Linked DNA regions of Homo sapiens: regions 2 and 3 are each linked to region 1. The links come from fine-mapping of genetic effects on gene expression. A gene starts in region 1. Each other region holds a variant in brackets. All regions are shown on one strand. Distances are from middle to middle.

Region 1 (5,343 bases):
AAAGAAGAGACTTTAAGATGGTTTAAGATGAACTTGGGAAAACAAGGAAATAACTTAGCATTAGAGAAGGACGCCGAACACACAGCTTCCAAATATCTAAGATGGGATGTGTTAATACATTCCTCCCAATGCCTGGCAGCAATGTGTGGGTTAATTTGCAGAAGCCTGGTGAGCCTGCTGTTCTTTTTGCACCTGGTGCTTCCTGTCATGAAGAATGACCTTTAGGAACAGGATACTTTTGGTTTCTGGTCTCCTTTTGCAGTCATACAAGTTGGGAAATCTCTGCCCAAATTAAGGACCTGGAGAGACTTAGAGTTGAAGGGGCTACGACCTCATTAGAAGGTCAGCAAGGGTTGGGCACAGTGGCTCATGCCTGTAATCCCAGCGAGGAAGGCAGATCACGAGGTCAGGAGTTCGAGACCAGCCTGACCAACATGGTGAAACCCCGTCTCTACTGAAAATACAAAAATTAGCTGGGCATGGTGGCACGCGCCTGTAGTCCCAGCTACTCAGGAGGCTGAGGCAGGAGAATTGCTTGAACCCGGCGGTGGAGGTTGTGGTGAGCCGAGATTGCGCCACTGCACTCCAGCTGGGTGACAGAGTGAGACTCCGTCTCAAAAAAAAAAAAAAAAAAAAAAAAAAAAAAAAAAAAAAAAGGATCAGAGAGCCAGGCAGAGAGGCCAGGGAACCAACAATAGTGTCCTTTCCTCGGACACAAATTACATGCAAATGTATCACACAGACAGCATTTCCCTTGCATGGAATGGAGATTATTTACAAGCATCATATATCTCCACAAAGGGTTGCTGAGCTTCAAAGATTGTCGGGGTTGGTTTTGCTGTTATAAGATAAACAAACATCCTCTAGTACTCAAATTAGAAGGGAACCATAGAAAATGCTTATAAAGAATTCTCGGCTGGGCATGGTGGCTCATGCCTGTAATCCCAGCACTTTGAGAGGCCGAGGCGGGCGGATCATGAGGTCAGGAGATCAAGACCATCCTGGCTAACACAGTGAAACCCTGTCTCTACTAAAAATACAAAAAATTAGCTTGGCGTGGTGGCGGGTGCCTGTAGTCCCAGCTACTTGGGAGGCTGAGGCAGGAGAATGGTGTGAACCCAGGAGGTGGAGCTTGCAGTGAGCCGAGATCGCGCCACTGCACTCCAGCCTGGGCGACAGAGCAAGACTCTGTCTCAAAAAAAAAAAAAAGAAAAAAAAGAATTCTGTACACTCACAAACCTTCTGTGTCTAGACTTGCATGCTCTACTGCCAAATGTGCACCAAATTCAAGTCAGACAGGCATACCTGTGTAATCTGGATGGGATCAAGGTTTTTGTGTGCGCTTATTAAAGTGAAATGAAAAAGAGAAGAAAGTGGCAATCCCTAAAGAGAAAGCAGTTAACAGAGAGTGAAGAGCATAAGATCTAATTTCCAAGCAAATGTTTATCTAATTATACTCTATTTTATGGACCTTTCTACCAGCAAGCACACAGTACACATTCACATGGCAGATAAGAGGACTCCAGGCTACGATTCTCACTCCACTGAATGAGGAATTCAATGACTCACCCGTGGATCTCGAGGCAGCCCCTTGAATCCCAGGCAACTGGGTTTTATGAAAGAACACTTTGGGCTCTTTGGTGATGTTTCTGGGTGGTTGTGACCGTTTACTGCCTTGAAAAGAAAACTTTTTGCGGTGAAATGTAATTACCTTCTTTTTATCTCCCCTGAAACAGCTTTTCAATTCTCCCTGAGTCACATAAAACCAGTGGTTGAAGCTACCTGGTAAGCCTGTTATGTTTCCAGTGGGATGGAGTCCATCTGCATACGGCAAGCATAAATGAAGTTGGCATTCCATTAAAAACAAAAACAAAATGAGGAAACCACTCTGAACCTTGTCCATCACTCTCAAATTATCAGTATTTTATCCCGTAGATGAAAGGAAATACTTAGCTACAGTCCAGCATCTGTCCTCTATTTATCTGAGGAATCAAGAAGTTCTACTCCCTTCAGAATGTTTGGGCAGTGACTTGGAGCCACCAGTGTGAGGTCAGTCCTTGCTGTGATAATGGAGTTCCTTCATGGAACCATGCTGACCAATGGGGAGACTACAGTGTAAGAGGGCAGTGCTTGGAGGTGCAGGCATGATGAGACCAGGTCCCTGCCTGCAGTGTGCAGATTAGTGAGGAGGCAGAAAGAAATCAATTACAGTCAGCCCTCCGCATGCATAGTTCCCCATCCGTGATTTCCAACAACCTCACTTGGAAAATGTTCAGGAAAAAAGGAATGGGCACGGTGGCTCACGCCTATGATCCCAACACTTTAGGAGGTCAAGGTGGGCAGATCGCTTGAGGCCAGGAGTTCAAGACCAGCCTGGCCAACACAGTGAAAGCCCATCTCTACTAAAAATACAAAAATTTGCTGGGCGTGGTGGTGCACACCTGTAGTTCAAGCTACTTGGGAGGCTGAGGCATGAGAATCACTTGAACCCAGGAGGTGGAGGTTGCAGTGAGCTGAGATCATGCCACTGCACTCCAGCCTGGGCGACAGAGCAAGACTCTGTCTCAAAAAAATAAAACAACAAACACAAAAACAAAAACTAGCCAGGCATGGTGGCGTGTACCTGTAGTCCCAGATACTCGGGAGGCTGAGGCAGGAAGATCACTTGAGCCCAGAAGGCAGAGGTAGCAGTGAGCCAAAATCGTACCACTGCACAAAGAAAGAAAGAAAAGAAAGTGGAAGGAAAGCAGTCACCCTTAGAAGGGAGGCAATGTGCACAGGGGAGACCCACAGCAGGAAGGTAAAGGGGGACTCCTGATGACTGAAAGTGGGCCCTAGGCTTCAGAGATGGGAGGAATAGAAGACGGGCTCAAAAAAGGCAATGAACTATGTCATGTATGAGGGAGACAGAGGGGACCTGGGAGTGCTGGATGTTAGGGACCACTGAAATCAATACTGTCCAGGCTGTGCATGATAGGTGAGAGGAAGGGAATACTTCCAGGAAGAAGCAGAAGTCTGGGACTTTCTTTTGACTCGTGATGTGACCTGACCAACAGGAGGCCCTTTTTTTTTTTTTTTTTTTTTTTTGAGATGGAGTCTTGCCCTGTCACCCACACTGGAGTGCAGTGGCACAATCTTGGCTCACTGCAACCTCCACCTCCTGGGTTCAAACGATTCTCCTGCCTCAGCCTCTGGAACCGCTGGGATTACAGGCATCTGCCACCACACCCAGCTAATTTTTGTATTTTTAGTAGAGATGGGCTTTCACCATGTTGGCGGCCAGGCCAGTCTCGAACTCCTGATCTCATGATTCACCCACCTTGGCCTCCCAAAGTGCTGGGGTGACAGGAGTGAGCCACTGTGCCCTGCCAGGAGGCCCTTTAAGACATTAAAAAAACTCTTATCTGTTTAAACAGAGATGGGATCTTGCTACGTTGCAAGGCTGGCCTTGAACTCCTCAGCTCAAGCAATCCTCCTGTCCCTCCCAAAATGCTGGCATGAGCCTCGGTGCCCGGCCTAGAAATTTTTTCAAGATAATAATCTTAGTAATAAGGTTATAAGTTACCAGGATGCTTGTGGTATATTGCATATGACTTATGAAATCCTTTGGAATCTCTAAATCAGATAATTTGGATTCACTCTGGCTATTAGAATACAATATCCACATCCTACTGGTAGTATGATTCTGGATATATTATGCTGCTTTCTCCAAGATGAGATAATACTGCTAACTTCATTCTCTCCAAGGGCCTTTGCACAAATCATGTAAAAAAAAAATCCATCAATAACTAACTTGCCCCTGCCACATTTATCAGGTGACCACTAATGTGTCAGGCCTTGAAAGGACTACAATCAAATGTTACACACCTAAGTGAGCCCAAGCTAGAAGAGTCAGAAGGTGAAAATAACAGCCTCCCAATGACATCACTAGGCCATCATTTCTCAACCACTGGGAAGCCATGGGCCCTTTAAAAATTAGATGAGCTTTATGAGCCCAAGTTCCACTCAATACCCTTGAAGCCTATCCAGGAAGGATCCTTGGCCCCCAGTTTTAGAAATACTTATGAACTGGAGAGAAGCCACCCAAGTCTTCTGATCCATCTTTCCCCTTTTCCCCTGTGAACACTGAGACTTCATTACTCTAGGTGGACTGGCTAGCTCTCTTCCCTTCTGAATCCTGCTCCTTCAAGTAAGCCTTTCATCTGCAGAAGATTTCAAAAAAATAAAAGACCGAATTCAAGGTAAACCTTGGGTAATGGTGCTCTGAAGTGCAGTGGTGTCTAGTTATGGAAAGGAACAAACACCCCTGCCCTCTGCTCTGTAAGTGGCATTCTAAACCCACCAAGGGACTTGCCCAGTCCTCCAGCAAGTCCTCCAGGCCCTGCTGCCCTGTTATCCTTGGGGTTGCAGGCAGCAAAGTTCTAGGGAACTCAGGTCCCAGAAAATGCAGTGATTCTGAATGTCCAACACAGACTTCATATTCCAAAGGGATACTAGTTCTCATGTTACTATAAATCCTTCGAGACAGAGAAACCAGGTAACTTTATTTCTCATTGTTTAGGATTTTCTTTTTATTATCAAATCTCTGCTATAGAAACACTGAAGAAAATGGGAAAAAAAATCACTGGAGAGGCAGCATAAAATGGTGGCTGAAAACAAGAACTCTGGAGCCAATCTCAGCTCTACTCCCTTACTAGTTGTGCCCCTTAGGTAGGATCCTTCAACATCTCTGCTTCAGCTTAGCCATTTGTAAAACTGGGGTAACAGTACCTATCTCAGAGTAAAGGGGACTAAACAAGTTAACACTTGGAAAGCATTTAAAAGAAAGCCCAGCACATAAGTGTTATATGTATTTGTAAAACTTTTTAAAAATCTCAACTGGGTTAACTTTTCCATGGATCTTTCAGGTCCTTACCCATATACATTTTTTTAGATGTGTTACAGTAAGTATGTATATACAATTCTGTATCCTTTTTATTCCTTCATGTTATGTATACTGATGCAGTGTCCATAATTATAATTTATAGTGATTGCCTAAAACAAATTACAAACTAATTGCCCAACAATGCAGTGATGAGTAACAATGGACGCTGACACACTGGGCTAAGGATCACTTTCTGTCCAGCAACATCAGTCTCACACTCCTAGGCAATAACTTTTCTACCGTTAGTCATCTCATTCATTAATTTTCTCTAAGGAGGTTAATCAACAGTAAATACCCCATTCAATACTATTATTTTTCTTACATTCAGATTTAGCACTTCATATTCTACTCCTGGGCACCCAGACCCTCCCCTTATAACAACAAAATCTGTATTTCTACAATTATGCACAAAATGTTAT
Region 2 (5,343 bases), 81 kb before region 1:
CTCTGTCACCCAGGCTGGAGTGCAGTGGCATGATCTCAGCTCACTGCAACCTCCACCTCCTGGGTTCGAGCAATTCTTCTGCCTCAGCATCCTGAGTACCTGGGACTACAGGTGCGCACCACTATGCCCGGCTAACTTTTGTATTTTTAGTATAAACACGGTTTCACTATGTTGGCCAGGCTGGTTTCAAGCTCCCAACCTTGTGATCTGCCCACCTCAGCCTCCCAAAGTGTTGGGATTACAGGCGTGAGCCACTGCACCCGGCCCAGACCAATGTATTTCTTTAATGTATTTGATTGATGTCTCTTGCCTCCTTAAAATGTATAAAACCAAGCTGCGCCCTGACCACCCTGGGCACATGTTCTCAGGACCTCTTGAGGGCTGTGTCACAGGCCATGGTCACTCATATTTGGCTCAGAATAAATCTCTTCACATAGTCTACAGAGTTTGACTCTTTTCATTGACACTGAAGAAACCCCCAACCCAGAGGAAAATCATCTGTGTGCACCACTTGGCTCACTTTGAGTGAGTGGGGTGCATATACCCAGATAAAGAATGAGATTGGTTTACAGGCCCAACTTGGTGGAGTTAGAGTCTCTCCTGGTTAAAGGCTCCTCTCAATAAAAGGCAAGGACACTTGACCAAACTTTGGTTCAATGCCCAAATTAGGAAGATTAGATTACTTCCTAAGAGTTAGGGGGTTAGAGGCCCCTCTCAGTAAAGTCCCTCTTGGCTAGGAATGGGTTTGGCACAATGGGCTGTTAACTGCTGTTCTCTTTGGAATAATCTGCCTTGCTGATGGCTATGGGTGACAGGACTAGGAATGTACAGGATCATGGGACATGGGGAGCTTTTTCCTCCCCAAAAGGGAAAACTTGCGAGCTGATGGGACTGCTGGAAAAGATCCCCTTGCTACTGACAAGCAGCCACCTGAACTTTTCAGTGTCACTGCAATGGGAGTGGGGGGGGCTTCTCTGGCCTCTCTAAGCTCCTGGCCTTCCCCACCCTGCCACAGGCAATGTTTTTCTCTGTCTCCTTTCCCTTTCTTATCTTTTCTGTTATTCAGGGTGACCATCTTGCCCAGAGACCAAGTTGAAACTCATGGTCGGAGGTTGGATTAAAGATGATGGGGCCCAACCAGGGCAAGTTTGAGCCTTGCCTGTTAGATATTCCAGGCGGAGCCGAGTGGCTAATGTGTATGTTTTGTCACACGTATTTTGCTCTGGCCAGAATGGAAAAAGATAATTTAGCTTTGTATTGCAGATTGGCCCCCAAGGGTGTGGTGCAGCCAGCTGGGTCACTAGAGGCTCTCAGGGAAAGGCAAACCAGAAGCCTGGAATGCTGGAATGCCAGCAAAAGGGTAAGAATTTCTTTTTTGTTATTGATTTTTTTTTTTTTTTTTTTTGGAGACGGAGTCTTGCACTGTCGCCCAGGCTGGAGTGCAGTGGTGTGATTTCGGCTCACTGCAACCTCCGCCTCCTGGGTTCAAACGATTCTCTTGCCTCAGCCTCCTGAGTAGGTGGGATTACAGGCACGCACCACCATGCCTAGTTAATTTTTGTATTTTTACTACAGACAAGGTTTCACCATGTTGGCCAGGCTGGTCTCCAACTCTTGACTTCAGGTGATCTGCCCGCCTGGGCCCCCCAAAGTGCTGGAATTACAGGCATGAGCCACTGCACCCAGCAAGAATTTCCTACCAGTCAGTTGGCTGGGTGTGGTGGCTCACACCTGTAATCCCAGCACTTTGGGAGGCAGAGGCAGGTGGATCACCTGAGGTCAGGAGTTCGACAACAGCCTGACCAACATGGTGAAACAACATCTCTACTAAAAATACAAAAAATTAGTCATGGCCGGGTGCGGGGGCTCATGCCTGTAATCCCAGCTCTTTGGGAGGCCGAGGTGGGCAGATCACTTGAGGCCAGGAGTTCGAGACCAACCTGGCCAACATGGTAAAACCCCGTCTCTACTAAAAATTGAAAAAATAAGCCGGGTGTGGTGGTGCATGCATGTAATCCCAGCTACTCGGGAGGCTGAGGCAGGAGAATCACTTAAACCTGGGAGGTGGAGATTGTAGTGAGCTGAGATTGCACCATTGCACTCCAGCGTGGGTGGCAGAGAGAGACCCCATCTCAAAAAAAAAAAAAAATTAGTCGTGCATGTTGGTGTGCACCTGTAATCCCAGCTTCTCGGGAGGCTGAGGCAGGAAATCACTTGAACCCAGGAGGTGGAGGTTACAGTGAGCTGAGATGGTGCCACTGCACTCCAGCCTGGGTGACAGAGCGAGACTCTGTCTCGAAAAAAAAAAAAGTCCAGGTGCAGTGGCTCATGCCTGTAACCCCAGCACTTTGGGCTGAAGTGAGGGGATCACGAGGTTAAGAGCTCAAGACTATCCTGGCCAGCATGGTGAAACCCCGTCTCTACTAAAAATACAAAAATTAGCTGGACATGGTGGCTGTAGTCCCAGCTGCTCAGGAGGCTGAGGCTGGAGAATTGCTTGAACCCAGGAGGTGGGGGTTGCAGGGAGCTGAGATCATGCCACTGCACTCCAGCCTGGCAACAGAGTGAGACTCCATCTCAAAAAAAAAAAAAAGAAGCCGATTTGCCCAAATCAAAGAAAGAAAAGAAGTGGGTTTTCTTATTTTGTTTCATTTTGTTTTTAGTCTGTAAATGAAACAAAACAGCAAGGAGAAAAGTCCCCTGATTTGTATCCTAGTGCTTCTTGATCACACCTAGTTGGCATAGCTGCAAAAAGCATAGCCGGCTGGGTGCAGTGGCTCACACCTGTAATCCCAGCACTTTGGGAGGCTGAGACGGGCAGATCACGAGGTCAGGAGATCCAGACCATCCTGGCTAACACGGTGAAACCCCGTCTCTACTAAAAATACAAAAAAAAAAATTAGCCGGGCGTGGTGG[C/T]GGGTGCCTGTAGTCCCAGCTACTTGGGAGGCTGAGGCAGGAGAATGGCATGAACCTGGGAGGTGGAGCTTGCAGTGAGCCGAGATTGCACCACTGCACTCTAGCCTGGGCAACAGAGCGAGACTCCGTCTCAGAAAAAAAAAAAAAAAATCATAGCCACATCTATCTAATCTTATTGCTCATAGCTGTTAAATACCAAACCTGAATACGCAATTTTAGAAACGGAGCCTTCAATGCTTTTTGTTCCCAATGTTTCACAAGCAAATGGATGGAAATCAGAAGGCACACAGGGGAAGAGTATAATAAAAGCCCTAAGACAAGTTAAATGAAGTCCCCTGAAAATGACAGTGAAGCAGAGCAACCAAGAGATTGATTCATACAGCAAAGAGGACAAGACAGATTAATGCAAAGTTGACATCCTGTGGTGCCAAACCAGTTCTTAGCCAAGAGGGACTTTACTGAGAGGGGCCTCTAACTCTTAGGAAGGACTAAATCTTAGGAAGGACTCTAACCTTCCTAAATTGGGCCTCAAACCCAGGGTCAGTCAAGCCTCCTTGCCTTTTCTTTTCTTTTCTTTCTTTTTTTTTTTTTTGAGATGAAGTCTCACTCTGTTGCCCAGGCTGGAGTGCAGTGGTGCGATCTCGGCTCACTGCAACCTCTGCCTCCTGGGTTGAAGCAATTCTCTTGCCTCAGCCTCCCTAGTAGCTGGGATTACAGGTGTGTGCCACCACACCTGGCTGATTTGTGTATTTTTAGTAGAGATGGGTTTTCACCATGTTGGCCAGGCTGGTCTCGAACTCCTGGTCTCAGGCAATCCGCCCGCCTCGGCCTCCCAAAGTGCTGAAATTACAGGTGTGAGTCACCGCACCTGGCCACGTCCTTGCCTTTTATTGAGAGGAAACTTTAACCCTCTCTGTCTTAGGAGAGACTCTAACTCCCTAAGCTGGGCCTCTAACCCAATCTCATCCTTTACCCAGGTGCCCCACCACTTACCCAAAGTCGGCCAATTAGTGCTGCAGCCTATTTCCTTTGGGCCGGTGGGTTTCTTCAGTATCATCCCTTCAAGGTTCACCAGAAAGATGTTACCAGAAAGGGCGTCCCAATTCAGACCCCAAGAGAGGGTTCTTTGGATCTCACACAAGAAAGAATTCAGGGTGAGTCCACAGTGCAAAGAAAAGTAAATTTGTTAAGAGAGTAAAGTGATGACAGAATAGCCACTCCATAGACAGAGCAGGCTCTTCCCGAAAGTCAGAGGAGGAATGCGTCCACCCTAGGTACTTGTTTATACATAGTGTCAGGAATAACGCTCAAAATTTTAAGGAAATTGAACACTCGAACAAACGATTTTTAGCAAAGAAATTTTACGTTTGCACAGAGGGGTGCCTCTTTGGCCAGTCGCCATGAGAGCGCACCTGAAAAAAGGGGCACGAGAGCCTTTGAGCGAGCCACTTTTGTGAGCGAGACTCCATCTCAAAAAAAAAAAAAAAAAAAGAATTGGCAGAGATTTTAAAAAGGCTTATAAAGAAGGAGCCAAAATTCCAGTTTCTGATTGGTTGGTGTGGGCATTGATAAAGGCTGCTCTTGAGCCATTTCAAACAGATCACGAGACAGATTCAGATGAGGAAGACAAGTGTGTAAAAAACTAACTTCAGATTCTGAATGCGAGGAGCAAAAACCAGAGGAAATTAAGAAAGGGAAACTGAAAAGGGTATGTTTTACTAACCCATCAGCTCCACCTGCTGAATTAAGTGAATGGCCACCTCCTTTCCCTCCCCATAATGGGCGAGAAAATGAATTAGCTGTAAAATTTACTGCTCCTGTAGTTGCAACATTAAAATCTGGAGCAATTGGTGGTGCTATACAAAATTCTATTCAAAAGGCTAGAGCTGAGGGAGACCTTGAAGCATGGCAATTTCCTGTTACTATCACCCAGCAAGGAGGGAAAAATATAGCTAGTTGGGCCACATTTTCTTTTAAGCTATTAATGGAATTTAAGCAAGCCATTAGTCAATATGGGCCAAATTCTCCTTTTGTACAAACTTTACTAAAAAATGTGGCTCTGAATAATAGATTGATAAAATATGACTGGGATACTTTAACAAAATCTGTTCTCACTCTATCTCAGTACTTACAGTTTAAAACCCGGTGGGCTGATGAAGCTCAAACTCAGGCAAGGGAAAAAACACAAGCACAGCCATCTGTGCCTGTTTCCTTTCAACAGTTAAAGGGAGTCAGTCCTAATTGGGGTCAATTAGAAAATCAAGCAGTAATGGAGAATGTTGCCATTGTTCAGTTATGCACTGTGTGCTTACGGGCATGTGACAGAATAAATGTTACAGGAGAAAAATATCCTTTTTTCAGTTCTGTCTGACAAGGACCTAAAGAACCATATACTGATTTTATTGCTCAGCTCCAGGAGGCTGTGAA
Region 3 (5,343 bases), 21 kb after region 1:
ATCATGAATCAGATCTATGCAGCTGAAGTAGAACAGGACTTCCAGCCTCACAGCCCTGCCCTGAGAAACACACACAGACCAGACGTCTCCTGGACATGAGAAACACCTGATGCACAGATAAAGCGACTGAACTAAGTAGCCACAAGGCCAGAGAATCCAGACAACAGCCACATTCAACTTTCAAAGACCTGTTAATTCCTATTCTCAGATTCTCAGACCAGAGTGATTTCAGTATAAAGTGGGACAGGATGCTACAAGAGAGGCTGAGAGAATAGGAAAGCCTTCACAGACTAAGAAAAGAACAGAAGACACAGCAACTAGTTCAGGAGGCCCTAGAGAGTTCTGCTGTGGTGAGAACATGATCATCAGGCCCCCAACCCCCACCAAGAAAAGGACATGGAATATAGAGAGATCAGAGACACGGCAATTTGTTCAGGAGGTCCAGCAGCTAACAGAAGAGCCCAGAAAGAGAACCTAAAGGAAAAGGACAAGAGGGAATTATTACTTTTTAAATAACACAAGACTTCTTAAAATAAGACACACAGAAACACTAGCCATAAACAAAGATAGACACATTTGACAAAAACATACCAACATTCAAATATCTGACTGATAAGACACCACCAGTTAAGACAAGCTACAGACTGGGAGGAGTTAGTTGATATGTGATAAAGAATTAGGATTCAGAATGCATGTGAAATACCTATATTAAAGTCAGTCCCTAGAAATCTAGGGATGGGGGAAGAGAAACAAAGAGAGAAGGAAATACAGATGGCCAATAAAGACATCAAAAGGTACTTAAGCTCACTAGCAATCAAGAAGATGCACATTAAAGGAATGCAATATACCTTTCTGGTCCTGAGGTAAGCAAACATTTAAAAGACCTGATAATGTCAAGTGTCGACAAACATGCAGGAAAAGGGGTATTTTCTCCCAGAGTGGGGAGACTGACAAGTAGCTTCGCCCCCTTGTAGAGACATGCGGCAGCACTAGTAACACTGAAAGTATATACCTAGCCGGGCATGGTGGCTCATGCCTGTAATCTCAGCACTTTGGGAGGCCGAGGCAGGTGAATCACGAGGTCAAGAGATGGAGACCATTGAGACCATCCTGGCCAACATGGTGAAACCCTGCCTCTACTAAAAATAAAAAAATTAGCTGGGCGTGGTGGCATGCACCTGTACTCCCAGCTACTTGGGAGGCTGAGGCAGGAGAATCACTTGAACCCGCGAGGCAAGGTTGCAGTGAGCTGAGATGGCACCACTGCACTGCAGCCTGGGCAACAGAATGAGACTCTGACTCAAAAAAAAAAAAAAAAAAAAAAGTACATACCTAAAACCAGGTACAATTCTGCTTCTAGGGGTATGCCTAGATAAAAACTACATAAACACGTGCACAAAGTGAAGTCACAGGAATGTTCACACAGCTTTCACTGGAGCAGCAAAAACAATGGGGGAAAGAGGAACTTATAAACCTGCCCATAAAAGAAACTATGAACACAGAGGTGCACTTCTCTAATGGATACACTCGGCAGCGCAAAAGGAACAAGCCTGACTTCTCTGTATCTATCAACATGGATGGACCTCAAAGTTGAAAAAAGAAAACTATAGGAAAACTACATATAGAAAAAAATCATTGGGAAAAAAAATAGATTGTTGGGCTGGGTGCAGTGGCTCACACCTATAATCCCAGCACTTTGAGGCAGGCAGATCACTGAGGACAGGAGTTTGAGACTAGCCTGCCCAATATGACAAAACCCCACCTCTACTAAAAATACAAAAATTAGCCAGATATGGTGGCACACGCCTGCAATCCTAGCTACTTGGGAGGCTGAAGCACAAGAATCCTTTGAACCCGGGAGGCGGAGACTGCAGTGAGCTGAGATCATGCCACTGCACTCCAGTATGGGCAATGCAGTGTGACTGTCTCAAAAAAAAGAAAAAGACTGTCTATGTCTATATAGTTTATCATCTATGTATGCATATGAAAATGAATTAGCTGTGTACAAACTGAATCCATGAGTGGTTGCCTGAGAAATGGTGGAAAGACAAAGAGTAAAAGAAGAAAAACAACAAATACGACAAAACAGTAATATTGTTCACTGATGGTGATGCCATTTGCTTCCTTTTTACACTTCTCTGTAATTATGAAATGTGCCAAAATTAAAACTAAAATAAATTTTTAAAAATTTAGAAATGAAAAAGGGGACATTTTCAAACTGTAAGCCCCATGGGCTAAAAAACAGGAAGAAAAAAAGAGCTGCCCCCAGCTGAATATGTAACCATGTCTGGGCCCACAAATCATGGAGGCCTCACCTCAAGGATGGTAAGGGGACTGGGCACAATGGCTCACGCCTGTAATCCCAGCATTTTGAGAGGGCAAGGCAGGCAAATCACCTGAGGTCAGAAGTTTGAGGCCAGTCTGACCAACATGGTGAAACCCTGTCTCGATTAAAAATACAAAAATTAGCCAGTGTGGTGGCACACACCTGTAATCTCAGCTACTCGGGAGGTTGAGGCATGAGAATCCCTTGAACCCGGGAGGGGAGGCTGCATCAAGCCAAGATCGTCCCACTGCACTCCAGTATGGACAACGCAATGAGACTCTGCCTCAAAAATAAAAATAAATAAATGGCTGGTAAGGGGACACAGTAAACACCTTCAGCCTAGAATTGCAAAGGAAAATGCAAAACCAAAAGGCCAGAAGGAAGAGATGGTGGAAGACAGGAACCTAGTCTCACAGGCTGTGGAGATGAGAGGGACCCTTCAAGGGTAGGAGAGGAAATGCAGGTTTCACTGTTGCCTGATGCTAAGGGGAAAGGGTGCTAAAGAGAGAAGAGTACTGCTACAGGGAGGAGCAAACCCTTCTGGTCCACAGGTCACCCTCATGAGCTGCATTTGTATTTTCCAATCACATCCTAGGATGACTTGCAAAAGTGTTTCACCCAAATTCTCATAAACATTCTTGCACACATCACTTTGTACACACATATAAGCATTTATCTAGGCATTCTAAGCACTTCATGG[A/G]ATCTGCTAACAAACCAGCCACACATTTAAACCCTTTGAGAGTCTGAAGGAGAGACCAAAGGTGCTGAGCTGGGTCTCAGATGTTTGCTGACAGATCTTGCCCAACTGCTCCCCCTTCAAGGAACCTGGGGCAATTCAGATGGCTTCTGTGGTAGATTTCATTGCAGAGAAGGAAAACATAAATAGATTGTGCACATCCTCAAGTCTGACCAAGCATGGGTGCAGACTATTATTGGTGTTTTATGTACATAATGTTTGTTATGCAGATATCCTAGGTGGACTGTTAACAGAGGGGTTTGAATGCTTCCGTATTTGGAAAGGCTGGTTGGGGTTTTTTAGATGAAATGAGATATTATCATTACAATTATTATTTTCCCCTATTCCTAGAAATAACGGGATCTGGGCTTCTGTAGTTAAAACCTCACTATTCAACATACTTCCATGAATGGACTATTCAGATAATGAGGGATGACAGCATTTGATGTTTTCACCAGATAAATGCTTTATTTCAATAAATACTTAACTTGGAGGGAACAATAAAGGGACACAGGGTTCTTTTGCATTCCTGAAGATCTCACTTAGTTAAAAACACACAGCAGTCAAATCCGAGTTTCCCACAGGAAAAAATCCAGAGTGTGGGGAGGGGGGCCAGCCAGGAGCATGTTATCAGAAATCACAACTCTTCAGACATTGGAGGGTGTTGTTATTTTTAATTCTGTTTTATTTTCTCAGCATTAACTTAGATAATTCTCAGAAAGCCTAGCATAAATTAACAGCAGAGTGTAGCATGGTGGTTAACAGGGCTTCTTCGCAGTGTTTTATTACAGCTAACTTCTACTCCTCAGAGTCTGATTCAGGGGCCATCTTTCAGGCTAGTCTAGCTTCACTACTGATTATTCTGTCTTAGGATTTAATAATGACTGTACATTGTAAGAGCAGCAAACCTCATAGTTGCCCAAGTTCTGATGCCAGGCAACAATCACCTTGCATCATATGGTTCAGGCCCTTCTGCTTCCCATCTCACCTGGACCAGGGATAGCAACACTGCCAAGTGGGAACAGCATACTTATGATGGACTTCACCCACCAGATTTGAAACTGTGGGCGGTTTCAATAATATTTTTTAATTTGAGGGGGAGGCACAAAGTAGAGACATCATTTTTAAATCTTGTTTTATATCCAAGTATCTCACATCTGCTTGATTCATTATCTTAACTTAAAAATAAAAGACCTAAAAATAAGTAATGAAACTCTTTTTCTTCATCTTTCATAGCAGGGAGTTAACAGAGTAAATATAACTTTAATGAATTAGGAAAAAACCAATTTAAAAAATCTCCCATTTAGAAATACAGAGACAACTCTAAAAAACTGAAAACAGGAAGTTAAAAATGGCTGCCTCAGTCATTTTTTACAATGTAATTACATTGTAATTACACTTATTACATTTACATTGTAATTACATTACATTAAAAGAAATATTGACACAATGCTACAATATGGGTAACTCTTGAGAAGGCAAACATTATGCTAAGTGAAAAAAGCCAGACAAAAAAGGCTGTGCCATATTATGATTCCATTTTTATGAAATGTCCAGACTAGGCAAATTCATAGAGACAGAAAGTACACTAGTGGTTGGGAGGGAGTAGGGGAAACAGGGAGTGACTACTAATGGGTACAGGATTTCTTTTTAGGGTGATGAAAATGTTCTAGAATTAGATACTGGTGATTGTTGCACAATTCTGTGACTATACGAGAAACCACTGAATTACACACTTTAAAAGGATAAACTTTATAATATGTCAGTACCATCTCAATAAAGCTATTATAAAAATTTTTTTAAGTGGCTGCATCTGGTGAGGAGGCTGGGCAGGAGGACGGCAGAGAGATGACACCTTTCCTAAGTAACTCCATTGTCCTATTTCTCTCAGGAGCCACCCTGTCCCCATAATCACAAAGGCCCCTGCTTTGATTTCCTTATACCTCTCCTCCATAGCTCCAAGGCCCTGGTCAGACTGAAGCCTGAAACACCAGCCTGCTTCCCACAGCCCTCTTCTTTCCACACCCATCACCACATTTTGGACCCTGGTGCCGCCTGATCCCAAGACTTCTGAGGTTCTGCAGCAAGCATTCAGGGCCTGGCCTCTCCAGCCTAAAATCTAACTGGAGTCAGTCTCACTCAAACACTGGTCACACAGTGTGCTGCCTGCCACCCCTGACCCCTGTGGTGCTGCAGGAGGCCAGACCCCCACTCACCAGGCTGTGCCCAACTGGCTGATGCATTCTTTTCACCTCTTGGCCCAGGTCTACGAAGCAGCCTT

The links. PIP is the estimated chance that this variant, and not a neighbour inherited with it, causes the effect. A credible set is the group of variants that fine-mapping cannot tell apart.
Region 2: its variant is the best candidate, but not a certain one, in a credible set for the expression of C19orf18 in substantia nigra (GTEx, PIP 0.65).
Region 3: its variant is the best candidate, but not a certain one, in a credible set for the expression of C19orf18 in sun-exposed skin (GTEx, PIP 0.88).

The regions. Positions count from the first base shown.
Region 1 is chr19:57,972,530-57,977,872 of GRCh38, forward strand. C19orf18 (chromosome 19 open reading frame 18) reads right to left here and starts at 2,005. Exons shown (of 6, transcript NM_152474.5): 1 at 1,783-2,005; 2 at 1,570-1,674. The coding sequence starts at 1,903. ZNF606 (zinc finger protein 606) reads right to left here. Exons shown (of 7, transcript NM_001348022.3): 7 at 4,547-5,343.
Region 2 is chr19:57,891,786-57,897,128 of GRCh38, forward strand. It overlaps a transcript of ZNF814 not described here. Among named protein-coding and RNA genes, the nearest start is that of ZNF814, 5.4 kb to the left of the region's middle. The variant C/T (reference allele first, on the strand shown) is at 2,917.
Region 3 is chr19:57,993,888-57,999,230 of GRCh38, forward strand. All of the region lies in intron 4 of ZNF606 (zinc finger protein 606), which reads right to left. Among named protein-coding and RNA genes, the nearest start is that of ZNF606, 6.3 kb to the right of the region's middle. The variant A/G (reference allele first, on the strand shown) is at 3,027.